Homo sapiens: one gene and its partner. The protein of the gene in region 2 binds, or shares a complex with, the protein of the main gene of each other region. Each region holds a gene or a part of one and is shown on either strand. Other genes may lie near its edges.

Region 1 (7,033 bases), on a different chromosome or scaffold from region 2:
TAATCTCATTACAAAGAATGGAGGCAAAGGGAAAAGTAAGGGAGAAGCCATATAGCAATCAATAAAGAAGTAACTCTCAACTGTCACCCACAAAAAATTGGGTTTGGGGTAGGTAAGTCCATACAGACCTATCTGTACCAGGTACATGGTTTATGCTGTCATTGAGAGACAAAGGTCAAGATGGAAAGATGGTATCTTAAAAATGTATTCCAAAAGCCCATCTCCTTTCTTGCGTGTGGCTGAAAATTTTGCTAGCTCCTTCACATTGCCTCTTGAGAATAAGAGGAAATACCAGAAGGGCTTCAGTGTCCCCTAACAATTTGTGGTCCTCTTAGGAGGGCTGTTTTGAGGAGGGAATGTCATGGGGGCTTGTTTCTCTGCTTCCAGATGCTTCCTGAAACTTGGAGAGTGGCAGCTGAATCTACAGGGCATCAATGAGAGCACAATCCCCAAAGTGCTGCAGTACTACAGCGCCGCCACAGAGCACGACCGCAGCTGGTACAAGGTGATCAGAAGCAGGCCACCTGTGAGACCCAGCACCCTGGCTGGCTCGTGTCCTCCTGTGTGCTCGTGGTTACAGCTGAGCTTCTGCGGAGCTAGGCTGATGCTGTGAACTTACTCCTTGAGTCCCTGGAGCCTATCTATAAGAGGCCCAGGGAGCCTGCATTTCCCCCTACAAGTTTAATTAATACAGAAAGATTATTGGAGAAATACTTGTTACACCATTATTATGTGTATGTGGTGTTGGGGATTGCTGCTGTCTTACAGACTCTGAGCTGCTTGTTTTCCTGGGAGCATCTGGACACATGGTTAATCTCTGGAGTGACATCTTCCCTTAGGTCATCTGTTCTTGTTCAGCGTTTTTCTGATTTGCATCCTTGCCTGCTCCTCAGCTAAGAACTTAACTTTCTTTGTTTTTATTGGAAAGATCCAAGTAACATCCTGTTATGTTACAGGAAACTTTTGAAAGAGATAAACAGAATTAGAAAATATATAAAAGATGTGATTGATGGAGGGGTGATTTTTGGAAGTGTATATCTTTGGTGAGAATATACTTTCTTATTTCTTTTTGAGAGGCTTTCTGGTAACTACTTGGTGTGGCAGATGTCATTGACATCTTTCCAGTATTTCCTTGGCTTGCCAATACTTTGTGAATTAATCTCTCTGAAATCTAAACTTGTATCTGAGGACTGCAGAAGCACTTATAATACAGATCTTACCTTTGTTTAGGCATGCTTCATTCTGGTTTGAAAAATGTCCATTTTGTCATAAGAGTAATACTCTCTCTAGGACAGCTTGCATGTCCAAAGCTGGAAAATACATCCGGTAAACACTATTAACTGGAAGCTTATTAATCAGAGTTGTATTCTAACCAGAGTTACTTTCATTCATTAAGCTTTTAGGAAGTAAGCAAATCACAAGAAAAAAGTTGGTTTCAGGAACTTTAGTTTTAGTTTTTAAAAGCTTTTCCTAATGTGGGTCCCTTTTGTTTTATGATGTATTCTACCATCAACGTCATGGCCCTGTATGCATGCCAGGACTGTTTGTCTTGTTCACCTTGACCCCAGGTCATTGCCAGGCACATAGCAGATACACAAGAGATATTCAGTGAATAAATGAAGGTATGGGAAAACTGAAACCTGGGTCATTGTAGAATTCTTACTCATCAAGTAAAGGTTAGTTGTGATCAATCTATTCTCCTTAGTTGAGAAAACGGATACACCTGTGTTCAAGGTTTTTGGCAAGGCATACAAACGAATTTCCCAATTATTCAGAAAGTTCAGCTATTAATGGGTCACGTAGTGTCCTACTATCACTGCAAAGTTACCATGCCTGGAAGCAAACTCTGCCTCACACTCGCTAAACCAAGTGGTGGTACGCTGTAGAGTCATTGCCGCTCAGAACCCCAGAGAGAGTAGTATTCCTTTATCCAAATAAGCACCAGCGGTTCTTCCTTCAAGCATTGAGCACTGGTTCTCTGTCAGGCCGTGGGCTAGGTGTTGGGACCAGGCAGATGGGTGAGATTCTTTCTCTGTCAGGCTCCTATGCTCTTCATGTCTTCCTTTGTCCACTATCTGGTGACCTGTCAAAACTTTGCTCCCTTGAAATATTGTGATGACTGCTGCTTGCCCCCACTTCTGCTTGCCATTTCTGCTCTCCCCTAAATGTACACTTTATACCCAGTGCAGCTCTGCTTTCTGGGTGAAAGTGCCAGCCCTGTGCCTGCTCCAGGCGTGCTTTGCTGGCCTCGCTCTCACTCCTCGCCTGCATGTATCCCCTGCACGGTCACATTCATGGGCTTGTTTCCCGTGAACCAATCTGCACATCTCTGGCCTTATTCTTCCCCCTTGCCAAGTAGTCCCCACCGCTGCCTTCTTGTTTCCCTCCTTGCCCTTCTGCAGCTCTCTTCCAGACCTACCCCAAATCCCTCTTCTTGACAAAGCTTTCCAAATGCCTGTCCTTGCTACTCCCATTGTGCCTTGCAGAGTACCTAGGTCTTCAGGTTTGTGCGTGAGCTCCCCTAGGAGGCCGGGAGATCCCTTGAGGCAAGAGCTCTCTCCTGCTCCTCTTGCTGTGCCCTTCTCGCAGTGCACTCATAGTACGTTATATAGTTAGTGCTCCACAAAGTGAGTGGATCATGTTGAATTTAGTAAAACAGCCATTTCTGAGTGTCTCCTTGAAGTGTTTGCTTTATGGACACACAGAACAGGCAGGAGCAGCTGTTCCTCAGCATCGACCTTGCGCTCCTCTGAGCCCTGCTGTTGGTCACAGCTCCAGTGTCTGTCCTTGCCTTTCTCCCCAACCAGGCCTGGCATGCGTGGGCAGTGATGAACTTCGAAGCTGTGCTACACTACAAACATCAGAACCAAGCCCGCGATGAGAAGAAGAAACTGCGTCATGCCAGCGGGGCCAACATCACCAACGCCACCACTGCCGCCACCACGGCCGCCACTGCCACCACCACTGCCAGCACCGAGGGCAGCAACAGTGAGAGCGAGGCCGAGAGCACCGAGAACAGCCCCACCCCATCGCCGCTGCAGAAGAAGGTCACTGAGGTACCCTTCCCTTCTTCCTTATTAACAACCAACCAAGGTGCCAGGCTCTCTGAGAAATGGAATCGTTGTTAAGCTTAAAAGGAACCTGAGGCTGTATCTGAAGTGCCAGATGGAGCTGGAAAATACTGCCTATCTACCATCCAGCACTGCCTGAGATAGGGCTTTGTGTGTGAATATTTGTGTTTGGGGAGCTGACGCAGCCTCTATGCTGAAGAGCAAGCTCCTTGTCAAGCTTCCCTGTGGACGAGCTCATTCTCTACGTGCTGCACCTGTGTGTGGGTGGCTGTACACAGCTGCGGGTCCACTCTGAGGATGGGGCTTGGGAGGTCCATCCTCTGCCTTTTTCTCTCCACTTCCACTTCTTCCCCTTCCCCTTGGGCTGTCAGTTCAGAATGCGCCAGGGCCGCTGGCAGGCCCAGAGATCCGGGTGTTCAGAGCCTCAGCTCCACCTCCTCCCTCCATCCTGTTCAGGAAGCCACTGTCAGCCCAAGATAATAACAGTTATGATACAGTTGCCATTTATTGAGTCTTTGCTATGTGCCAGGTAATGATTAAAGATTTTTCATGCATTAACCGATTTAATTGTTATAACCACCCTTTGAAGTAGGTACAGTTAGTATGCTCTTATGCCCATTTTACAGATGAGAAAGCAGAGGCAAGAGTGTCGCTAACACGTGTGTGTTCCAACAGGATCTGTCCAAAACCCTCCTGATGTACACGGTGCCTGCCGTCCAGGGCTTCTTCCGTTCCATCTCCTTGTCACGAGGCAACAACCTCCAGGATACACTCAGGTATCAGAGAAGGGAAGGATGCAACTCTGGTAGGCCATGTTAATGGCAAGACCTAGAAGTCACACGTAAAAGTCCTCTTTCCCTTCCTGACCCTGATCAGGACACCCAAGATCGATGTATGTGCCTTTTTTCTGCACTGCATTTAAGGAGTAACAGCTGACTGGGCCCCACCTGTGTGGGTGAAACCTACAGAGAGTGAGGAGGAGAAGTGGAGTGAGAACTCTCCATGTGTGGTTTATTATGGAGGGATTATTAACCCATCTGTTAATCACAATATTTCTTTTTTTCTGACCACCCTGTTGCCTATTGAAGTCACAGTATTTCTAAAATCCCTCAGCAACTTGGAGAGGTCTAAACAAATGACTCAAATCAGTTAACCCAGAGGGTAAAGGTGACAAGGTCCACATCCTCCTTCATTTGAGGATCTCCAGCCAGCTAAGAGCCAGGTGTCCCTGTTGCCTCTGCCGTACAGCGACTCTTACATGTGCAGACTTGTGGCTTTCTAAAGGTTATCCTGGCTCGTCTGTTTGATGTTTGCATACATGCCATGGTGACCCCTCGGTGACCTGGGATGAAATGCTCATTTGCTCAGGGTGACTCTTACGGTGTTCAGTCAAGAGCACTGCCACCCATCACAGACACCTGCTCCCATGGGAGGCCAAACACATTTGAGAGTTACTGGTTGGAGTCCCTGCCAGCTCTCTTCTCAGGAGCCTTAGAGATGAAAAACAGGCAGGCAAAAACTGGGAAACTAAATTTTCTGTGACTTTCTCATTTCTTTTTCAGAGTTCTCACCTTATGGTTTGATTATGGTCACTGGCCAGATGTCAATGAGGCCTTAGTGGAGGGGGTGAAAGCCATCCAGATTGATACCTGGCTACAGGTGAGGATACTTGGTTACAGGTGAAGGTGGCTCCAAGTCTCTCTTCTGTGTGTCTCCTCTTACAAGCATGCTGTGTTCAGTGTCACAAGGCAGTGTGTGTTAATACAGTGCTAAGGAAGTAGGGCTCGGTCCCAGTGTCAAGTGTCCATATTTTCTTTATTTTCTTTTAGAAACTAAAGGGAAGGGAATGAACCATTTCAGAGCATCAACCGAAACAAGTTAAAAGAATTGATCTTTGCCTAGAAGAATAACTAGTTGTTTCAAGTCTCATATGCTACATACTGTGTCTTTTTGAATACCAGGTTATACCTCAGCTCATTGCAAGAATTGATACGCCCAGACCCTTGGTGGGACGTCTCATTCACCAGCTTCTCACAGACATTGGTCGGTACCACCCCCAGGTATGTGGAGACTCTGGGCAGTTTCTCATCTAACCACTGGTTTGGTGGTCAGCCTTTCCAAAAGCTGCCCTGGCGACACAAGCGCAGGAACTGGGAGCCATGTGTTCCATCCTGGCCCAGGAGGGTCTGTCCAGCCAGCCGTCCCAGAGGGCCCGGGAGCCTTGCTAAAAAGAAAGCGTTCCCTCGAAGACTGAGCCCCTTCCTGGTAGTCTCAAGCAGATGTTAATGTCACACTCACCACTTGTTTTGTTATTCTCCTTAAAATTCATACCAGCTCTTCCCCAACCCACATTTCCTTTATAGATGTTTCTTCTGTTTTTCCCTCAGGCCCTCATCTACCCACTGACAGTGGCTTCTAAGTCTACCACGACAGCCCGGCACAATGCAGCCAACAAGATTCTGAAGAACATGTGTGAGCACAGCAACACCCTGGTCCAGCAGGCCATGATGGTGGGTCGGAGCCACTGTGGGGCTTCATAGACCCTGGTCCCTTAGCTGGTGGGCGCAAGTGGGATTGTTTTTCTTCCTCGCATTGGTGCTGTGCACTTCCTCTGACTGCTGGAAATAGTACCTCCTGTGTCTCCAAAACAGACCTTTCTGAGGTTAGCTGATTCTTGATGCTTCTCTCCTTCTTCTCTTGGCTTCAGGTGAGCGAGGAGCTGATCCGAGTGGCCATCCTCTGGCATGAGATGTGGCATGAAGGCCTGGAAGAGGCATCTCGTTTGTACTTTGGGGAAAGGAACGTGAAAGGCATGTTTGAGGTGCTGGAGCCCTTGCATGCTATGATGGAACGGGGCCCCCAGACTCTGAAGGAAACATCCTTTAATCAGGTATGGGGTAAAAAACACGAAAGGACATAACCCTGTAGAAATATTCTGCCACTAAAAAAAAATGAAATGAGAAAAGTTTTTATAGAATGAAAGGACGTGACCCAAGGCCTTTGTCAGATTTCTTTTCCTCTGGCCTTTCCACTGACTTTAATAAAACGAGCTCTGATGGAGGTCACAGAGCATAAAACATCAGAAATTAGTTACAGGGACCCTTCTGAATTTTAACTGGAAAAGCCCAAGATTTCTCAAGAGGTCATCTCGTCTCTCCTCTCACCCTTCCTTCCCTATAAGCCATGCTGCTGGTTTGGAAGCTCCAGGGTTGGAGGCCTGCACCTATGCTCTTGCTTTCTCCAGCCCCCTGCCAGTGTTTTCAGGCCACAGCGGGCTCCTGAGGAATATCTGCAGTCAGCCTGGGGATTTTGCCTCCTGGGTTGGTTGAGACTTTGATAACTTGAAAACGTGCCTGCTTTCTCTCTCAGGCCTATGGTCGAGATTTAATGGAGGCCCAAGAGTGGTGCAGGAAGTACATGAAATCAGGGAATGTCAAGGACCTCACCCAAGCCTGGGACCTCTATTATCATGTGTTCCGACGAATCTCAAAGCAGCTGCCTCAGGTAGGATCTTCAGGCTCCTGGCAGGGTTAACTGTCATTATAGTCCTTTCTGTTTTACTGTCTATGAATGTTCTAACACTCATTCCAAAGCATCTGGTTTTACTTCTGCTTTGGGACAAGTAATTGTTATTAGCAATCCACTGAAAAATACTTAAATTGCGTTTAAATTCTTCCCTGGAGGCAGAACACTAAATCCTTTGGTAATTATTTACAGCTCACATCCTTAGAGCTGCAATATGTTTCCCCAAAACTTCTGATGTGCCGGGACCTTGAATTGGCTGTGCCAGGAACATATGACCCCAACCAGCCAATCATTCGCATTCAGTCCATAGCACCGTCTTTGCAAGTCATCACATCCAAGCAGAGGCCCCGGAAATTGACACTTATGGGTAAGGACCATTGTGCACTTCTGTCACCCACTTCTCCCTCCTACACTGGCTGAGACCCCTTCCCTCTTCT
Region 2 (7,693 bases):
TTACATATAATAGAAGGATTTTTGAAAAGTCATGAGTGCAGTAAGGAAGACAAAAAGATTGCTTACTGGATTGATGCTTTTAAAAATGTTTTGTATGATAGCCAAAATTCAAAGTGTTCTTTCAGATTGTGAGGCAGTTTTGAGTGAAATCATTTTGTTGTTATATGGCACATGTATCAATATGCCTTCCAGAACTATTACATATGAAAAGTAAGCCAAATACATTACTTCTTTTCACGAAGAATTCTCAAGCATCTTGTAGAAGAGGAAATGGTGGTGTGTGCCTCATGGAGCAGGTGTACCTATTGGAATGTATATCTGGAATATTCAATGCGGTGTAAGCTGTCAGGGCTGTCTGGTTATTAATGAAGTCAATGCATGTTTCATTATATTCATAAAGCCTTGCTGTTAAAAAAAAATCTAATGCCTAGAAATGTTTTGAAAATAAAATAATTACCAGCTAAATCTTCAAAACGTATTCCATACAGTTTGAATTTTAAAAAATTTTTAAGTGTTTTATTATTTCATTTCATTTTTGTAGACACAGGGTCTCACTATGTTGCCCAAGCTGATCTCAAACTCCTGGCCTCAAGCTAAAATTTTTTAAATGCCCCTCTCAGATGGAAATTTTTAACATGCTATGTATTAATTTAATTTGGAATGATATCAATAAGTGGAAAAATATATTATATTCATTTCCTGAATATAATTAGGAAGATCAATTATTAAAAAAGATGACAATTATCCCTAATACAGAGATATAATACAATAACGTTTACAGTCCCCAAAGAAATGACTATACAAATTCAAAAACTGGCAGAGAAATTCATGTCTTTGCCCTAAATGAAATTAACTTTCCCTACCTTTCCCTCTTTTATTCTTGCTCTATAATCTCCTCCTATCATCACCAACTACTATAGTTTTAACTACCATCTATATGTTTATAATTTCCAAATCTGTATCTCTATCTACCTCAGAACTCTCCAGCAAGATCCATACTTCTATCAAGTATCGCCTAATGAATATCTACAGCTGAATTCCTCATAGACACCTCAAACTCAACACATCTAAATCATCTTTCCACGTTCCCCCTAAACCTGCTCTCCACCCAGAACTCACAATCTTCACAGTTTTCCAAGTCAGAAATCTGGAAGTCATCCTACATCCCTTCTACCCCTCATTAGATACTCTGTCTTTAGCCTTCTTCTCTCTAATCTCTTTCAAATCTTAAGTGTTATCCCAGCCAAACATTTTTTAATGAGTCCCCACCACCTTTATCCCCTATGGCCTACAAAGGCTTTCAAACTATTAAGCATAAAATATTAATGACCTGGACCTTGAGTAGAAGAGGCAAAATCCCCCTTAGGAGAAGAGGGAAACAGAAAGTCAACTTCATTCAGTGCAAAGATATGAATGATGTTTGCAACCACATCCCACTACTTCATCTTATTTTATATTCCTGGAGTACTCAACTGGAAGGCACTGTGTTAGGTATGTGGCATACATTATGTCATTATTTTACCTAGCCGCCAAGAAGAGACACCGCATATCCACTACCAATCTTTATTAATTTCAAAACTCCTTTCATACCCTATTTTAGATCACTGTCCCAACCATGACTAGGCTCTCATGATCTACATCTGACACTAATTATCTGGTTAGTCTTAAAATAGAAGAAAAGAAAAAGAAAACAACAATAACAGCAAAAGGCAGTGAAGACACTGATTTGAATGGATGACAGAAAGTACAGATATTCTTTATCACCATCTGTTCTGAGATAATAGACGTAAAGGCTTTTTATAATAATATTGTCAATAACTTCCATCACTAGTAACTATTCGCCAAAATTCTCTTTAACAGTACAGTTACAATACAAAATACCGTTTAACAAAATTATTACCTGGCAATAAGCATAGTTTCCGAGAGCTTTATGAGCTTCATCAATAACTAAACACTTTATTTCAGCAGCGGGACAAGCTCCTCTAGAAAGGTCATTTACCATGACCTGAGGTGTAAGAAAAAGCACTCTCTTACTGCACCATATTTCCTTCCTGGTGGAAGCTTGTGTAGACCCTGAAAATAAAAGTGACATTCTACATTCTAAACTTCAGACTGTTATCTATAAAATATAAATAGTCTGGCTTTTTCAGAATGCAAACATGCTTTGGTAACATTAAGAGAAAAACAATTTGACAATTCATCGGAATGCTACATTTTAAAGTTCTGGTGTGGTCCAAATATCAAAGCTGGCACTTATCTAGGACTACAACCAAATTGTCTTTAGAAAATTCCTACAAAATGGCATATTTGAAGAGAGGCAAATTCTTCAACTGAGAAATCTTTTTCAGGAAGAATGCCAGGAAATATCATGTTCAGTTACCCATGGGGTATACGCACATAATAGCTTCAAAATACTATGACAAGCTGCAGATATTCTCTGAAGATTGAATAAAGCAACCCTATTCATCAGTTTTGGGCTTGCTGCAAGTAGAGAATGTTTTAAGAGGGAGGGCGTAAGATGCACATGTTGTAGCTTGGGAACTATTCCACATGGGTCAGGAATTCCCAGCTCTTACTTCAAAATTAGTCCAGTCTAAGATACCTGTCATTTCGGCCATGTGGGATTGCGGGATACCCATCACCTGGTAGCAAGCCTCGATCTGCTGTGTCACCAAGGGTTTCGTTGGGGCCATGAAGACCACCTTTCCTGAAGGGAACCAGCGGTAGAAATTGTACATGACCACGGCGGCAATAAAGGTCTTTCCCAGTCCGGTAGGCAGACACACCAGCGTATTGCAAAACAGAGCAGCCCGGGAAATGTGCAGCTGGTAGTCCCGCACTGGGCAATTGGTAGGGTAAATCCACAGGGCGCCCGCGGAGGTGCAGAACCCGCCATTCTCTAGACACAACTGCCGCTCAGCCTCGTACGCCGCGACAAGCAACACATCATCGTCCGACTCCAGCTGAGCCTCCGCTGCTGCTGGCAAAGGCGCCTTGGAGCTGCCAGGGCTCTGAGGTCGCTCAGTTCCGGAGCTGCAACCCGGAGTCCCAGATGATCGGGAGATACTTGAGCCCCACGTCTGAAAAAGCGTTCTTTGCCGTCCGCTCATTAGGCCGACAACCACCGAAGGCTTCTGTCAGATATCCGTAGCAGCAGCAGCTCAACCGCTACGGTTCCGATCCCCATCGGTTTCCTTCGCACAAAACTCTGGAACGAGAAGGCGGGACTAAGGCCAGTTTATCCAGTTGAAAATGCCGCTACTGAGTTTCCGTTGGGAATGATTGGCTGGCTTCCCGGAAACCTTCACAGCCCTGCCGGAGACTCATGCGCATTATTAAGGCGTTACTCTAAATATGGTCCCCGGTGCGGTTCCGGTGTTTTGTTTTAACAAACTCTAAATTTAAGTTCCGTTTCCAATGATTAGATGGCTGGGCGTCATTGCTAACGTGATAAATCACTTAAAATGTTATAATAGAGATTTATTGTAAAATATTACATACCCGGGGACAATGGAATAGCCACCAGTTTGGGAACTTAATGTTATTGAGCGTCTAACGTGCCTCATTCCTTGTACTTTTAAATCAGAATATAAAGTGAAAAGCAAAAATGTGTAGATGGAATAATTTGTCTTATATCTCTATCTGGGCTGAGAAAACAAAATGCCAAGTCTCTTTTTCACCGCGCTGGGAGTGGCAACCCATTATTTTAATATTTTCATTGTTTAAAGGGAAGTGAACGTGGTCTGGTCCAGCTATTCGTCAGAATTTTTTTTTTTAATGCTCCTTGCAAAGCAGAGCTAACTCATAGGCAACATGCCCAGAGTCAGCCTACATTTTTTTAAGTAAGGAGTCCTGATGTTCAACTATTAAATCTTTATTATAGGTAAGAGCATTATAATAAACGTCGGTGTGCAATTATTCCACTCTAACGAAGATTTCTGTCTCAAATAATTCCTGACTTCTCTCTAAACCTGACTTTGAGTAACCTCTGTAAATTTGTTTCCTCGTGTACTGAGAAAAAAATATACATCACAGAGTTACGAGCATTAATAATGTCATTCTCATCAGCAAGTGGCATCCTGAGTGCGGCTTCTTTATAAATTGTTTTATTTGTTAAAGTTTCTGAACTTCGTTTTGGACAAACTTTCTCGTATTTGTATGGGGGGAAGGGGATGGGCAGTTTGTATTTAAGTTTCGGTTGTGTGATCTTTAAAAGGGAAATGGTGGGATATGGGTTTTCGGATCGACAAGGACTGAAGCACTTCAGGTGTGACTTTTTAGGCTAGAACTAGATAAAACGAGATAAGGAGCCTGAATGCTGTTTTCTTTTAACAGGTTATAGACTGGACTTTAAAGGCATAGCTGCCTTAAATGTGGGTAATGGTTGATAAATGTCGCTACCATCAGAGGTCGCTTCACAAGGTGTCTAATTCAGAATCGAAGATCTCTAGCGGTCTTCTACTCAGTCGACTGCAGAGACGACCGCGGTAGGTTTTTCAACCCGGACTCAACAAAGAAGCCCTCATAGCACAGCCTTGACGTCACTCAAAGACAGGCCCCAATCCCGACTGCTAGAGCAGAGGCCCGCCCCTCGACCTCCGTGAGTGGCCCCGCCCCGCCCTAGGGGGCGGGGCGATGCCGAACTGCGGCGGGCTGGCTCAGTAAAGCGGAGGCAGCGGGGGAAGATGGCGGCGGCCGTTCCACAGCGGGCGTGGACCGTGGAGCAGCTGCGCAGTGAGCAGCTGCCCAAGAAGGACATTATCAAGTTTCTGCAGGAACACGGTTCAGATTCGGTACCAGAGGCGTAGGGGCGGCCGGGCTGGTGCGGCTGAGGGACGCCTCACCCCCCTGGAGATGCCCATACATTCCGTATTCCTCTGTGCCCCCGCCCTCGTCTTCCCGCGGCCGGTGGCCTGGAAGGCCGGAGAGGCCCAGCTTGTGCTTTGGTGCCTCGCTCCCGCCTCTCGGGCGTTCTCTACTGGGGCAGGGGAGCAGCTTTATTTCTTGGGGCACACAGGCTGCAATTGTAGAGTTAGAACCTCATTGGGATCCTTGAGTGGGGGTGGAGGCCAGAAAAATAGGAACCCGAGGATATTGGGGGCTAGGGCGGAGAGGCCGAGGAATAGTGGTGTGGATGAGACTCCTGGGAGCGGGGCGCCGGCTACTAGGGAAATGGGAAGGGATGTGAAGATTTCTGTGGGAACGGTGTATCCAACTTGCTTTTCTCAACAGTTTACTAAATACTGAACATTAATGCGTGTGATTTTTAAAAAATCCGTAGGTTGTGGTTTAAGTTTTGATTTAACATATCGACCCTTTAAATGACCTTTTCACCTTTATACTTTAAGGGAGCTACATGCACATTTCTCTTGTGCAGTGGTCTGTCATTGTTATAAACAGACTAAGAAATTTATTTGAAATGCTTTATACTGTAGGCTCTCCATTTGTCAGCATAGTCTCCATCTTAACCATCCGTCTATAGTCAAGTTATTTTTGTTACACTTGTTTTTCCTTTGGAAAATAAGTTCATTCATGCACCTGTTAAATTGCTGAAATAGTTGTGCACGCAGCATTCTCTTACAAGCGGCAGCCTGCTTGTGTTTTCTATACAATTTTTAAAATTCTAAACTTTTCATTTAGAAAAACTGTTTCTGGGTTTTTTTGTTTGTTTGTTTGAGACGGAGTCTCTCTCTGTTGCCCAGGCTGGAGTGCAGTGGCGCGATCTCGGCTCACTGCAACCTCCGCCTCCCGGGTTCAAACGATTCTCCTGCCTCTGCCTCTCGAGTAGCTAGGACTACAGGCGCGTGCCACCACGCCAGGTTAATTTTTTGTATTTTTAATAGAGACGGGATTTCACCGTGTTAGTCAGGATGGTCTCGATCTCCTGACCTCGTGATCCGCCCGCCTCGGCCTCCCAAAGTGCTGGGATTACAGGCGTGAGCCACTATTTCTGGGTTATTTTGAGAAGCTTATATTTTATTTTCATTTTGGGCGGGCGTCATGACAGGGAGATAGAAGAACTCTCCAACTTCCAGTGCCTTCTTCCTTAATTATTATCCTGGCATCCGCATCTTAGATTAATTTAGCAGATATTAATACAACATCTGTAACAAGAACTATTCTCAGTGTTTGGAGGTACAAGGGTGAAAAAGAACATGTGTCGGGGATCTTACCCCATTTTAATGGAACTATTTTCTCTTAAGCCAATTCGTATTTCATCTGAAACAATAGAATAGACATCATTAACATTTAATAATACCTCAGTCATGTACTTCATCCATCATATTCTTATGAAACAAATCATGCCATGTGGAATCGTATGTAAAACTGGGCCACGTGGAAGAATTTCAACAGACTTGGATTATCAAAATGTTTTTATAACATTAATCTTTTAAATGCATAGTCTCGGTCGGTCGTGGTGGCTCATTCCTGTAATCCTAGCACTTTCGGAGGCCAAAGCGGGCGGATCACGAGGTCAGGAGATCGAGACCATCCTGACTAACAGTTGAGGCCAGGCATTGAGGACCAGCCTGGCCAACGTAGCGAAACCTCATTTCTACTAAAAATACAAAAAAAATTAGCTGGGCCTGGTGGTGGGCGCCTCTAATCCCAGCTGTTCGGGAGGCTGAGGCAGGAGAATCGTTTCAACCCAAGAGGGGGAGGTTGCAGTGGGCCGAGATTGGGCCACTGCACTCCAGCCTGGGCGACAGAGCTAGACTCTGTCTCAAAAATTAATAATAATAATCTCCGGTGATCATTAACACTTAGACCTATACTTGACAATAATTATTTTATTAATCATAAGATATCAAAGAGATGTTTATGCTTTTATGCTTTGGGTATTTTCTGGAATCTTTAACAAGAAACCACCAGCATGCTAAAGGTAACTGATTACTTCCGTTTAGTCAACTTTGTCTCCTTTCCCCATCAGCTGTTATTTAGAACATATCTTTGAAAGAAAAAGCAAAAGAAAAAAATACAATAGTGATAGTGTTAGCTGTTAACTGCTAATAATGTTAACTGCTTTATCAAAAGCTTAGAAGATGCCAAAGGACAACTTTGAGAATGTAACAAAATTAGGAATTAAGCAAGGACCACAAGGCAGAAAAAGAAGCAGAATAAAATAAGGAAACAAAGAAGTTATGGAAATCCTCACAATTACGTGATTTTCAGATAAAGTTATACTACGACTTGCTATTTCAGCAGTAGTATTTTAGTGTCCATCTGCCATCTTAGCAGTCTTATATTTGAAAGAAAAGCAATTCCGCTGTTACCTTGAGTTATTAAATACAGTATTAATCATAATCCCAATATTTATTAAGTTCTTACTGTGTGACAGGCTCTATGCTAAATGCATTAAATGGATTTTTGCATTTTATCCTTATATCAACTCTTTGACGTAGACGCTGTTATTAATCTTCCACTACAGATATGGAGGCTGAGTCTTTAGACAAGCTTAGTCCCCTGTCTAGTGTCAGACAGCTAGGATTTTTTTTTTTTTTTTTTTTTTTTTGAGACAGAGTCTTGCTCTGTCACCTAGGCTGGAATGCAGTGGTGCGATCTCGGCTCACTGCAACCTCCACCTCCCAGGTTCACGCCATTCTCCTGCTTCAGCCTCCCGAGCTGGGACTACAGGCATGCGCCACCATGGCCAGCTAAATTTTGTATTTTTAGTAGAGATGGGGTTTTGTCA

Evidence for each region. The genes of interacting proteins can lie anywhere in the genome.
Region 1: the proteins of FKBP3 (region 2) and MTOR are in contact, whole or in part, in a crystal structure (PDB 5GPG), measured with the Homo sapiens proteins. Residues at the interface, in NP_002004.1 of Homo sapiens: Lys160, Pro161, Leu162, Ser163, Lys170, Tyr198, Lys201, Gly202, Gln203, Pro204, Asp205, Ala206; in NP_001373429.1 of Homo sapiens: Glu2032, Tyr2038, Phe2039, Gly2040, Arg2042, Tyr2088, Val2094, Leu2097, Tyr2105, His2106, Arg2109.

The regions. Positions count from the first base shown.
Region 1 is NC_000001.11:11,126,552-11,133,584, reverse strand, and holds part of MTOR (serine/threonine-protein kinase mTOR), read left to right. Parts: intron 1-387; coding exon 388-505; intron 506-2,807; coding exon 2,808-3,056; intron 3,057-3,746; coding exon 3,747-3,847; intron 3,848-4,633; coding exon 4,634-4,730; intron 4,731-5,032; coding exon 5,033-5,131; intron 5,132-5,458; coding exon 5,459-5,581; intron 5,582-5,778; coding exon 5,779-5,961; intron 5,962-6,440; coding exon 6,441-6,575; intron 6,576-6,788; coding exon 6,789-6,963; intron 6,964-7,033. UniProt on the Homo sapiens protein: Serine/threonine protein kinase which is a central regulator of cellular metabolism, growth and survival in response to hormones, growth factors, nutrients, energy and stress signals.
Region 2 is NC_000014.9:45,131,449-45,139,141, reverse strand, and holds the start of FKBP3 (peptidyl-prolyl cis-trans isomerase FKBP3), read left to right. Parts: upstream 1-4,660; 5' UTR 4,661-4,685; coding exon 4,686-4,793; intron 4,794-4,887; exon of another isoform or gene 4,888-6,874; coding exon of another isoform or gene 6,875-6,883; intron 6,884-7,693. Other genes in the region: FANCM (Fanconi anemia group M protein), read right to left, coding at 1,901-2,073, 2,603-3,110. UniProt on the Homo sapiens protein: FK506- and rapamycin-binding proteins (FKBPs) constitute a family of receptors for the two immunosuppressants which inhibit T-cell proliferation by arresting two distinct cytoplasmic signal transmission pathways. PPIases accelerate the folding of proteins.